Homo sapiens: one gene and its partners. The protein of the gene in region 1 purifies or fractionates together with the protein of each later gene. This does not show direct contact. Each region holds a gene or a part of one and is shown in the gene's direction. Other genes may lie near its edges. The genes, in order: DDB2, PFDN4 and COPS7A.

Region 1 (3,652 bases):
ATTACAATGGGATACCACGATGGAGTTTTTGGGCTGTTGCAAATGTTCTGCATCCTGATTTGGGTGGTGGTTATTTAAGTCTATACATATGTTAAAATTCAGAGAACTTTATATCCCAAATTTGCTATATGTTAATTAAAAAAAAAAGTAAAAATAAAGCCTTAAGAAATGAAGGGAGGCGGGGCACGGTGGCTCACGCCTGTAATCCCAGCACTTTGGGAGGCCAAGGGTGGCGGATTACCTGAGGGCAGGAGTTCCAGACCAGCCTGGCCAACATGGTGAAACCCTGTCTCTACTAAAAATATACAATTTAGCCATGCGTGGTGGTGGGCACCTGTAATCCCAGCTGCTTGGGAGGCTGAGGCAGGAGAATCGCTTGAACCTGGAAGGCAGAGGTTGCAGTGAGCCGAGGTCGTGACAGAGCAGGACTCCATCTCAAAAACATAAAAATAAAAATAAAAATAAAAAAAAGAAAGAAATGAAGGGGCCAGACAAAGCGGCTCATGCCTGTAATCTTAGCACTTTGGGAAGCCGTGGCAGGGGGATCGCTTGAGCTTAGGAGTTCAAGACCAGCTTGGGCAACGTGACAAAACCCCATCTTAAAAAAAAAAAATAGAAAAATTAGCTGGGCATGGTGGCACGCACTTGGGAGGCTGAGGTGGGAGGATCGCTTGAGCCCAGGAGATTGAGGCTGCAGTGAGCCGTGTTTGTGCCACTGCACTTCAGCCTAAGTGACAGAGAAAGACCCTATTTCAAAGGAAAAGAAAAAGAAGTGAAGGCCCTGTAGAGAGCGTCCTAGTGTCTAAGCTGACCTGGCCCCAAGCGCTGCTCGAGGGGTGCTTCTGTGACGGCGCAGCATGTGTGCCCAGGCCTGGTTCCTCACGGCCAGGCCCATCATCACTCACTGGCTTTTTCCTTCCTCGTGTTAGATTGGAGCTGGAGGGAGCATCACTGGGCTGAAGTTTAACCCTCTCAATACCAACCAGTTTTACGCCTCCTCAATGGAGGGAACAACTAGGCTGCAAGACTTTAAAGGCAACATTCTACGAGTTTTTGCCAGCTCAGACACCATCAAGTGAGTAGTTTAACTAGCAGGGGAAAGGGCTTCTAAGCTTAGGTGTAGTTCCGGCAAGAGCATCCAGATCCCATTTCCTTAACCCAACCTGGCCCAGGGAAGAAAGGAAAGATGTCAGCCACTTTCCGCCCTTCTTTCTCTTTCTCAAACTGCTCCTTGGCTGCCCTCACTTTGGTCCAGGTGGGTTACTGCTTTGGGAAGGTGTTCTGGAGCCTCAGCTCTTCTGTAAGTCATACCTGTATTAGACTGGACCTTGACCCTCACTAGATAAGCCAGCATGGCGTGGACCCAGAAAGCCACCTAGAGAATGGAGCAACAGCTCAGAACTTGAGACTGAATGCCCTGCACTCACTGTGGTGTAATGACCTGACCTGTTCCTGGGTGGAAGCTTATATGGATGGAATCTTTTCCATAAAGTGCTCTGGACTTCCCAAGAGAAAGTGGCTGGAGAAATTACAGAATGCGGCCGGGTGCAGTGGCTCATGCTTGAAATCCCAGCACTTTGGGAGGCCAAGGTGGGTGGATCACCTGAGGTCAGGAGTTCGAGACCAGCCTGGCCAACATGGTGAAACCCCCATCTCTACTAACAATACAAAAAATTAGCTGGGCGTGGTGGTAGGCCCCTGTAATTCCCAGCTACTTGGGAGGCTGAAGCAAGAGAATCGCTTGAACCCAGGAGGCAGAGGTTGCAGTGAGCCGAGATGGCGCCATTGCACTCCATCCTGGGCAACAAGAGCGAAAATCTATCTCAAAAAAAAAAAAAAAAAATTACAGAATACTCGTCACTTTGATTTCCAGCTAGAGCCGTGACTCTGACTGCTCCCTGAGGAATTAAGTGAGGGTGCTGGGGTGTAACTAGCATTGGATTGGATCCTGGGCTGTCCCGCAGGGATGAGGAGTGCATGCGCACGCAAATCAGCAGGCAATTGGATAGACAAGGCTCCAGGCTACTCTTCCGCAAGAAATCTTCCTGCTTGAAGATATTCATAGGGGATGGCAAAAGGCAGTGTAGCATGGATTTGAGAGTTTGAGAGAAAAACTGTGAGCTGAGCTCTTCTGGCTGAATAGCAGGATCCCTGAAGCACCCTCCTAGTCAGCCTCCCAGTCCAGTGGTTTGAGGGACCAGAAGAGCTCCTGGTTGTGTTTTTTCCCCCAGTGTTCAGAAGGGGGCAGAAGTGCTTTTCTAGCCAGCTCTGAGGAACAGGGCCAGGCAATCCCTCTTTGGCTTGTGTCTCCTTTGGCCTAAAGGGTGAAGAGTGAAAGGAGAGAGCAGTAAAGGAGGCTTGCTCAGAACCCGGGGTGTGGGGGGCAGGCGTGCCTCAGGGCTTGCTTTATGGTATAAGCTTTGTCTGCTTCAGGGACTTTTAGGAGCTGGGGATCCTGGGCCCAGCCATAACCAGACAGATTTCTGAGCCCCATTATCCCATCCCCTCTGTCTGGACGGTAGAGCAGTCTGAATGTTCCTCACTAGGAATCCACGGCAAGACAGTTATTCATTCATTCAACAAATATTTATTGAATGCCCGCTGTGGGTTAGTCACCGGAGCGGCAACAGTGAGTAAATAGGACTATCTCTGTCCCCAAGAATCTTACAACACAGTCTCTCCCTCCAGCATCTGGTTTTGTAGCCTGGATGTGTCTGCTAGTAGCCGAATGGTGGTCACAGGAGACAACGTGGGGAACGTGATCCTGCTGAACATGGACGGCAAAGAGGTGCGTTCTCCGAGGTCCTGCCTTTCCCTCCCTCACCCCCACCTCGGTTCTGTGTCCCCACCTGAACCGAGCTCTTCTCTGCAGCTTTGGAATCTCAGAATGCACAAAAAGAAAGTGACGCATGTGGCCCTGAACCCATGCTGTGATTGGTTCCTGGCCACAGCCTCCGTAGATCAAACAGTGAAAATTTGGGACCTGCGCCAGGTTAGAGGGAAAGCCAGCTTCCTCTACTCGCTGCCGCACAGGCATCCTGTCAACGCAGGTGTGATATCCCAGACCTCATCTCTCCTGCAGACCCTGCCTGTCTGACCACTGCTGGGGTTTTCCCTCAGTGTGGAAGCCACTACGTCAAACCTTTACCCCTGATAGCGTCTGCCAAGCTGATGTCTGGGAACCTTTGTGGCTGTGGCTGTCCCCATCAGCTGCTGAGTTTCCAGAATTTTTTTGTTGTTGTTCACAGCCCAGATTCACCTCTTCCTTTCCGCTCCTGTCTAGAGAGGAGTGGGAGGGAGAGTACCCCTGCAGGAGAAGGCCTGCAAGGCCAGGACCACAGAGGGCTTGTGGTTCCTTCAGCTCAGGGGCTTTTCACTTTGCCAGCTTGTTTCAGTCCCGATGGAGCCCGGCTCCTGACCACGGACCAGAAGAGCGAGATCCGAGTTTACTCTGCTTCCCAGTGGGACTGCCCCCTGGGCCTGATCCCGCACCCTCACCGTCACTTCCAGCACCTCACACCCATCAAGGTGAGTGGCGGTGGGAAGGAGCTCGCAGAAGGAGGCTGTGATCATGAGGCCGGAGCAGGTCTGCCCACAGTGGGGAAGGGCTGATGTGGTAAGCCTGCCACCCCAGATCGCTCCTGGCCCGAGC
Region 2 (3,652 bases), on another chromosome or scaffold:
TAAAATTTTTTTATACTATAGCTACTAAAACTGAACTCAGTTAACAAGTGAATATATATTTCTCTGGGCTGTTTGTTGCAGATGAATGACGCGATCCACTCTAGTTAAGCAGAAAGTCATTTTTTTTTTAAGGGATATGCGATAACTTACAGAGTTGTTGAGGAGCTTGAGTCTAGACCGAGGTTCCAGGAACAAGTCTCGGAGAACTTGGCTGGCGGTGGAACAGCTGTTGCCTCCACTGATCCCAGAGTCAGCTGTCTTCCCAATGAGGAAGCCACCCTTGCAGACTTAGGAACACCAAGCTGCTGCTGCCAGTGCCACCTACCCCAGTAAATCTGGGGCCTGTGTCCAGCCGTCCCCCTTGAGTTGAAATCCAGCTCAAATGCATTTGATTGGTGGAATTGAAGTTATTATCACTTATGCATGCTGGCAGAACTTTCATTACCCGCATGATTTACTTACACCCTATCAGCAAGCAAGGCTGAGAAATGTAGGCTGGTTTTTTTGGTTTTGTTTTTGTAGGAAGGCAGAATTCACAAAGTCAAAAATTGTTAAAATAGAAGAAATTTTGAGTGACCATGTGCCTGCTGTCCACCACAGGGCGCTTATTGTCCAGAGGACAAAGCTTTAGGTAGCTCTAAGTGCTTGCTTGTGAAATGTCTTCTAAAAAGTTACAAATTAAGGTCTTATTCTAATGTGGTAATAATACCTTTGTGAGAGGGTCCCTCAGAGAGTTGCTGTCCCCAAATTACAATTGGCCTTTAGCTTCTATCAGAGAACTTTGAGTACATTTTCTTTGCCATTTTGCATTTATAGAAACAACTCCAAAACCTAGAAGATGCTTGTGATGACATCATGCTTGCAGATGATGATTGCTTAATGATACCTTATCAAATTGGTGATGTCTTCATTAGCCATTCTCAAGAAGAAACGCAAGAAATGTTAGAAGAAGCAAAGGTATGTTAAAGGTTAATTCTGAAATTAGAATTTATATCACTATAAAGAACATGTAATTATAGATGTAGGGAAATAGTAGATGCTAGCTATAGCTAATATTTACTGCCTTGTTATGTCCCAGGCATGCTCCGAATGCTTTGCCAGCAGGATTTTGTTGAATCATAACGATGACCTGTTATCCCAATTTAGGGACAAAGAATAGAGGCTTAGAGAGGTTATGGGATTTATTCAAAGTGACACATAGACAGTGGTCTTCTGACTCCAGAACCTTGCTCAAAACTAAAAGTATTTAGAAGGTATAGCATATATTGAAGCAGAAAAGAAAAATCCCCTGTAATTCTGCTATGCAGAGGTAACCATTCATAGTGAACATTTTCCTGTATTTCTTTTATGTTCTCTCTGCCTCTCTCCGTGTAGTTTGCTTCCCAGTTGGGACAATTAATGTTCCAGGAGGAGCATTTTTGCTGGTTTCATTGAATGTTTGTTTGTCCAGCAGATACTCATTGGAAGCCTGCTCTGAGCCTGGCACACAGGCCTTTAAAAACATCGTTTTTGAAGACTGTTTAATATCATGTTGATGGTTATCAATTGGGGTCACGGGTCTTATTGTTAGCATTAATTTGTTTCCAATATTTTGCTGTACTAATGTTACTGTGAGCATTCTTCTACATAAATCTTTGTTCACATTTAGAAAATTGTTTTGAGGAAATAATTAGAGAAATATAATTACTGGGTCAGTCAGCATATGAGTTCTCTGATAATATCTGAGACATTTGATACATGGTATGAAATTTTCAGTTCACATGCCTTCTTACTATTTGGGAGGGACAGCCACGTTGTTTGTCTATGAGAAGCAGATGGCAATTAAACCTTTCCTAATGCTTTTGCTAATTAACCTGATTGCTTAAAATGATAGTCTCTCTTCAAATGTCATAAAAAGCAAAACTTCGTATGAATGAAACCCACATTTAGTAAGTCTTCAGAAGAACTATCACTCCTGGGTCTTTCCATGCATAAATCTTATATGTCTCCCTTATGTTTAAATCTTTTCTTCTTGGTCAAATTTTGTGATTTTTGTTCTTTTTATTTGTTTAACCATTTAAAAAACATTTTTATTGGAAGTATTCCCAGATAGCTTATGGTTTTTGTGGCTATTGTGAATCCCCTGCCCCATACACAGATAGCTACTGAACTTTTATTTTATTTTATTTATTTATTTATTTATTTATTTTTTGAGATGGAGTCTTGCCCTGTCGCCCAGGCTGGAGTGCAATGGCGCAATCTCGGCTCACTGCAACGTCTGCCTCCTGGGTTCAAACAATTCTCCTGCCTCAGCCTCCCGAGTAGCTGGGATTACAGGCGCCCACCACCACGCCCAGCTAATTTTTGTACTTTTGGTAGAGACAGGGTTTCACCATGTTGGGCAGACTGGTCTCGAACTCCTGACCTCGTGCTCGTGATCCACCCGCCTCAGCCTCCCAAAGTGCTGGGATTACAGGCGTGAGCCACCACACCCGGCTGAACCTTTCTTTTTTTACTCATTCTAGAATTCTAGAATGAATGGAGTGCTTACTCTGTATCAGGTTCTGCCATGTACTAGGGATAATTGGGGACAACAAAACCTGCCTGGCCCCTGCCTGCATGGAGCATATAGTCTAGATGGAAAGAAAAAAAAGTAAACAAAACTGATAATGAGTAGAAAGTGATATGAGGATAGAGGTGGCTTTAAGAACACAGGAAGAGGAATCTACACTAGTCTGGACATCAAGGGTCAGGGAAGGGCTCCCAGGGAAAGTGATGGGATAACAGCTGAGGAATAAGTGGCTATTAGCCAGAAAGGGGCGGCGGGGGGCGGGGGGTTCTAGTCGTGAGAAGCAACATGTGTGAACGGCCATAGGATGACGGTGGTGCAAACATAGACCTGCAAGAAGATGTATTTGCTGGAGATTGGGAGCACCTGAAATTGTGGCCACATCTTGGAGAACTCCAGTCAGTTGAGTTGAAGAAATTGTACTTTGTCTTAGCAGGGGTCAGCAAACTTTCTGTGAAGGGCCAGAAGTAAATACGTTAGGTTTTGTGGGCTGCACAGCCTCTGCCATAATTACTATGAAAGCAAGATGAGTGAATCTGCGTGGCTGTCTTCCAATAAAACTTGACAAAAACAAGCTTCAGGCTAGATTGGGCCTGTGGGCTATAGTTTGCCCACTCCCGTCCCAGAGCAAAGAGGAGCCTTCAGAGATTTTTGGAAAAGAGAGAGATGATTGGACTTGCGATATTAAAATGACTTTCTAGTGTCTTATTTTACTTATTAACCAGGTTTTCTCGGTATAGAAATTTAGAATTTATCCCTTTCTAGTAGCCATATGTCTTATTTTTGTTTCTTGTTTTGTAACAGTGATTCTCAAACTTAGCATGCGTGAGAATCACAGTCACCACAGGGCTTGTTAAAAATCCAGGTTGCTGGGCCCGACCCAAAGACGATCTTTCAGGTGGGCTGAGGTAGGGCCCCAGAATGTGTATTTCTAACAAGTTCCCAGGTGATTTTGTCCCTGACACTGGTCTCGGGGCCACCGTTTGAGAACCATTGGCTAGATTTCTAAAACGGCAACACTGTCAGTATTAGATATTCTTTGGTTTCTAATGTTAGTGGGTATTTGGTTTGTGTGATTTCATATTTTTTTGTCATGTTTAGGAA
Region 3 (2,812 bases), on another chromosome or scaffold:
ACCTTCTGCAAGGATTGATTGATTAAGTGCCAGAATGAAGCTGAGCACAGTGGCTCACGCCTATAATCCCAGCACTTTGGGAGGCCAAGGCAGGTGGATCACCTGAGGTCAGGAGTTCGAGACCAGCCTGGCCAATGTGGCGAAACCCTGTTTCTACTAAAAATACAAAAATTAGCCTGGTGTGGTGGTGCACGCCTGTAATCCCACCTGCTTGGGAGGCTGAGGCAGGAGAATTGCCTGAACCTGGGAGGCGGAGGTTGCAGTGAGCCAAGATCGCGCCACTGCACTCCAGCCTGGGTAACAGAGGGAGACTCTGTCTCAAAAAAAAAAAAAAAAAAAAGTGCCAGAATGAGTGATCCATGATAGGAGGAGAGGAAATCTGGGTGGACTGGGCTGGGTGATGCAAGACAGTGTCCTGGTCAGGTGTGTCTGAAGCAGAGACCATAAGTTTAGATGTCTTTCTAGGCTGTGCAGCTGTCAGAGATGAGTGAGGCTGAGGCAGGAGTCTGGTGAATTGGGGAGTACTGGAGACTGTCTAGACATATTCCAATTTAGAAACATCAAACACTCTGAGGGCAGGCAACACAATTTGCAGTGTCTGGTGTGTATGTCTGTTTGACTCTGAAAACTGAATGTCTTCAACTCTGAATTTAGGGTAGGAATTGGATGACGTATGGAGCAAGAGGGCATTGTGGTTTGGGAGAATAGTGTAAACAAAAGCCTGAAGGTGGAAATGAGCCCTTCCTATGTGAAGAGTGATCAGAGAGGCAGAGAACTCCTTTTGGTGAGCCAGGAGAGTTAACATTGGCCGGGAAAGATGGGGCCAAAAAGTGGAGTTCCAAACAGGGTAAGGCTGGGAGGGTGGAGAGGGAAGACTTCCCGTCACCTCCTTTTTCCTCATTCTCGCAGCTGGCTGAGAGTGACTTTGCCTCTACCTTCCGGCTGCTCACAGTGTTTGCTTATGGGACATACGCTGACTACTTAGGTAACCAGAGGGGTTGGTGCTCTGGAGTAATGGAGATGGGAGAAGGGCAATTTCTGGAGGGACTCAGAAGAAATTCCTGGGATATCCCACTTAGATCCCTGGATGCATAGGGTCAGGGTCAAGACCTGAATTGGCATTGAAAGTGGGAGGGAAGGGAAGGAGGCTAGGGCTTCCCAGAAAACTGAAATCAGGATTCCTTACACTTTGTCGTTTTTCCCTAGCTGAAGCCCGGAATCTTCCTCCACTAACAGAGGCTCAGAAGAATAAGCTTCGACACCTCTCAGTTGTCACCCTGGCTGCTAAAGTAAAGGTGAGTGGCAGTCCCCCAGTCCTACGGTCTAGAGCATCCTTTTGTATGTCCTTGGGAGTCCACACTAGGACAGCCCTTGTCTAGACCGTGGCTGCTTCCTGCCCTCCCCTCCTCCAAGGTCTGTATATAAACTCCATTAGCAACTGTTTAGGCTGATAGTATTCTTAGTTTTCTGTGTTGTTTTTATTTTTTAATCAACTTAAGTTCTAAATAAACATCTTCTGTGGTTTTGGTCAAAATAGCAACTAGGATGTTGTTCAGGTGTCGTTCAACAATACCTTCTTCCCCACTGCTGGAAACAGGGCTCTCCTGATGAAGTGCTAGGCTTCTCTTTGTTAGGATAAAACATATATATTCTAGAAGTATCTCTGTATTCCTGTTAGGCTGTTTTTTGTCTAATATCACCACCCACCTCCCCAGCCTGCCCAGTCTGCAACCTCGCAATAGTTACTTGACTCTCAGTTGTCCTTGGGATTTAATTTAAACCAGGCTCTCTATTGAGAGATACCTCCAAAGGAATGCCCGTTGCAGGTAGGCAGAGTATAAATGATAAACAGTAACTCCACACCTCTCCCACTTCTGCTTACTCCCCTGTATCAAGCTGATCTTGACTAAGGACTGGGTGATACCCTGAGCTGTGGCTAAAGGAGTGACACCCAGGCAGATGTCATTTTCTCCTTCTGTGGTGTGTCAGGGGTGAGGGTGTTAGGGGAGCATTTTGTATTTTATTTAAGATTGTCCTTCTAATGATGCTGTTTTTGAAGTGGGAATACTTTTATTTATTTTGCTTTAGAACCAGCCTCTTAGAGGAAGTGATTTAGGAATGGGAGTGGAGGGCAGGTGGGCTAGGGCAGGGGGAAAAGGAGGGAAGATTTTTGGAAGCCCTTCTCTACTACGGAGCGTCACAAATCCTGGCCTGATCTCCGCGGCCCCAGTGTATCCCATATGCAGTGTTGCTGGAGGCTCTTGCCCTGCGTAATGTGCGGCAGCTGGAAGACCTTGTGATTGAGGCTGTGTATGCTGACGTGCTTCGTGGCTCCCTGGACCAGCGCAACCAGCGGCTCGAGGTTGACTACAGCATCGGGCGGGACATCCAGCGCCAGGACCTCAGTGCCATTGCCCGAACCCTGCAGGAATGGTGAGAACCGTATCCTGGCACTGTCCCCTTCTCACCCTGAGAAAGAGAAAGGCGCTTCAGGGTGAGAGAGGGCAGGAGCTGGGCTGGTCCGCAGAGGTGGAACCCAAGAGGATGAAGGGAAATGAGTTCATCCCTCCAAAGGCTTCTGGGGAATGCAGGAGTAGGGGAGGCCCTGGGAGGCGGCAGAAGTCAGTGTCCTTGATATAGTAGTTGGGGGAGGAAAAGGGAGTGGTATACTTAAGGGGATCCTAACCAGCAAGGTCGGTCGCCTGTCTTAGGCTAGACTCTGTCGATTGATCTGTAACTACCATTATCCACAGGCCATGACCCTTTTCCTCTTTTTTATTTTCTTTGTGTCCCCATCTAACTTCAGGGTTTC

Evidence for each region.
Region 2: the proteins of DDB2 (region 1) and PFDN4 purify together in Homo sapiens (affinity purification with mass spectrometry; 4 studies listed by BioGRID and IntAct, with this or other methods). This does not show direct contact.
Region 3: the proteins of DDB2 (region 1) and COPS7A purify together in Homo sapiens (affinity purification with mass spectrometry; 7 studies listed by BioGRID and IntAct, with this or other methods). This does not show direct contact.

What each region holds. Positions count from the first base shown.
Region 1 is NC_000011.10:47,231,885-47,235,536, forward strand, and holds part of DDB2 (DNA damage-binding protein 2), read left to right. Parts: intron 1-929; coding exon 930-1,075; intron 1,076-2,688; coding exon 2,689-2,788; intron 2,789-2,872; coding exon 2,873-3,050; intron 3,051-3,385; coding exon 3,386-3,528; intron 3,529-3,652.
Region 2 is NC_000020.11:54,214,484-54,218,135, forward strand, and holds part of PFDN4 (prefoldin subunit 4), read left to right. Parts: intron 1-814; coding exon of another isoform or gene 815-816; coding exon 817-957; intron 958-3,652. UniProt on the Homo sapiens protein: Binds specifically to cytosolic chaperonin (c-CPN) and transfers target proteins to it. Binds to nascent polypeptide chain and promotes folding in an environment in which there are many competing pathways for nonnative proteins.
Region 3 is NC_000012.12:6,727,017-6,729,828, forward strand, and holds part of COPS7A (COP9 signalosome complex subunit 7a), read left to right. Parts: intron 1-909; coding exon 910-985; intron 986-1,206; coding exon 1,207-1,295; intron 1,296-2,230; coding exon 2,231-2,433; intron 2,434-2,812.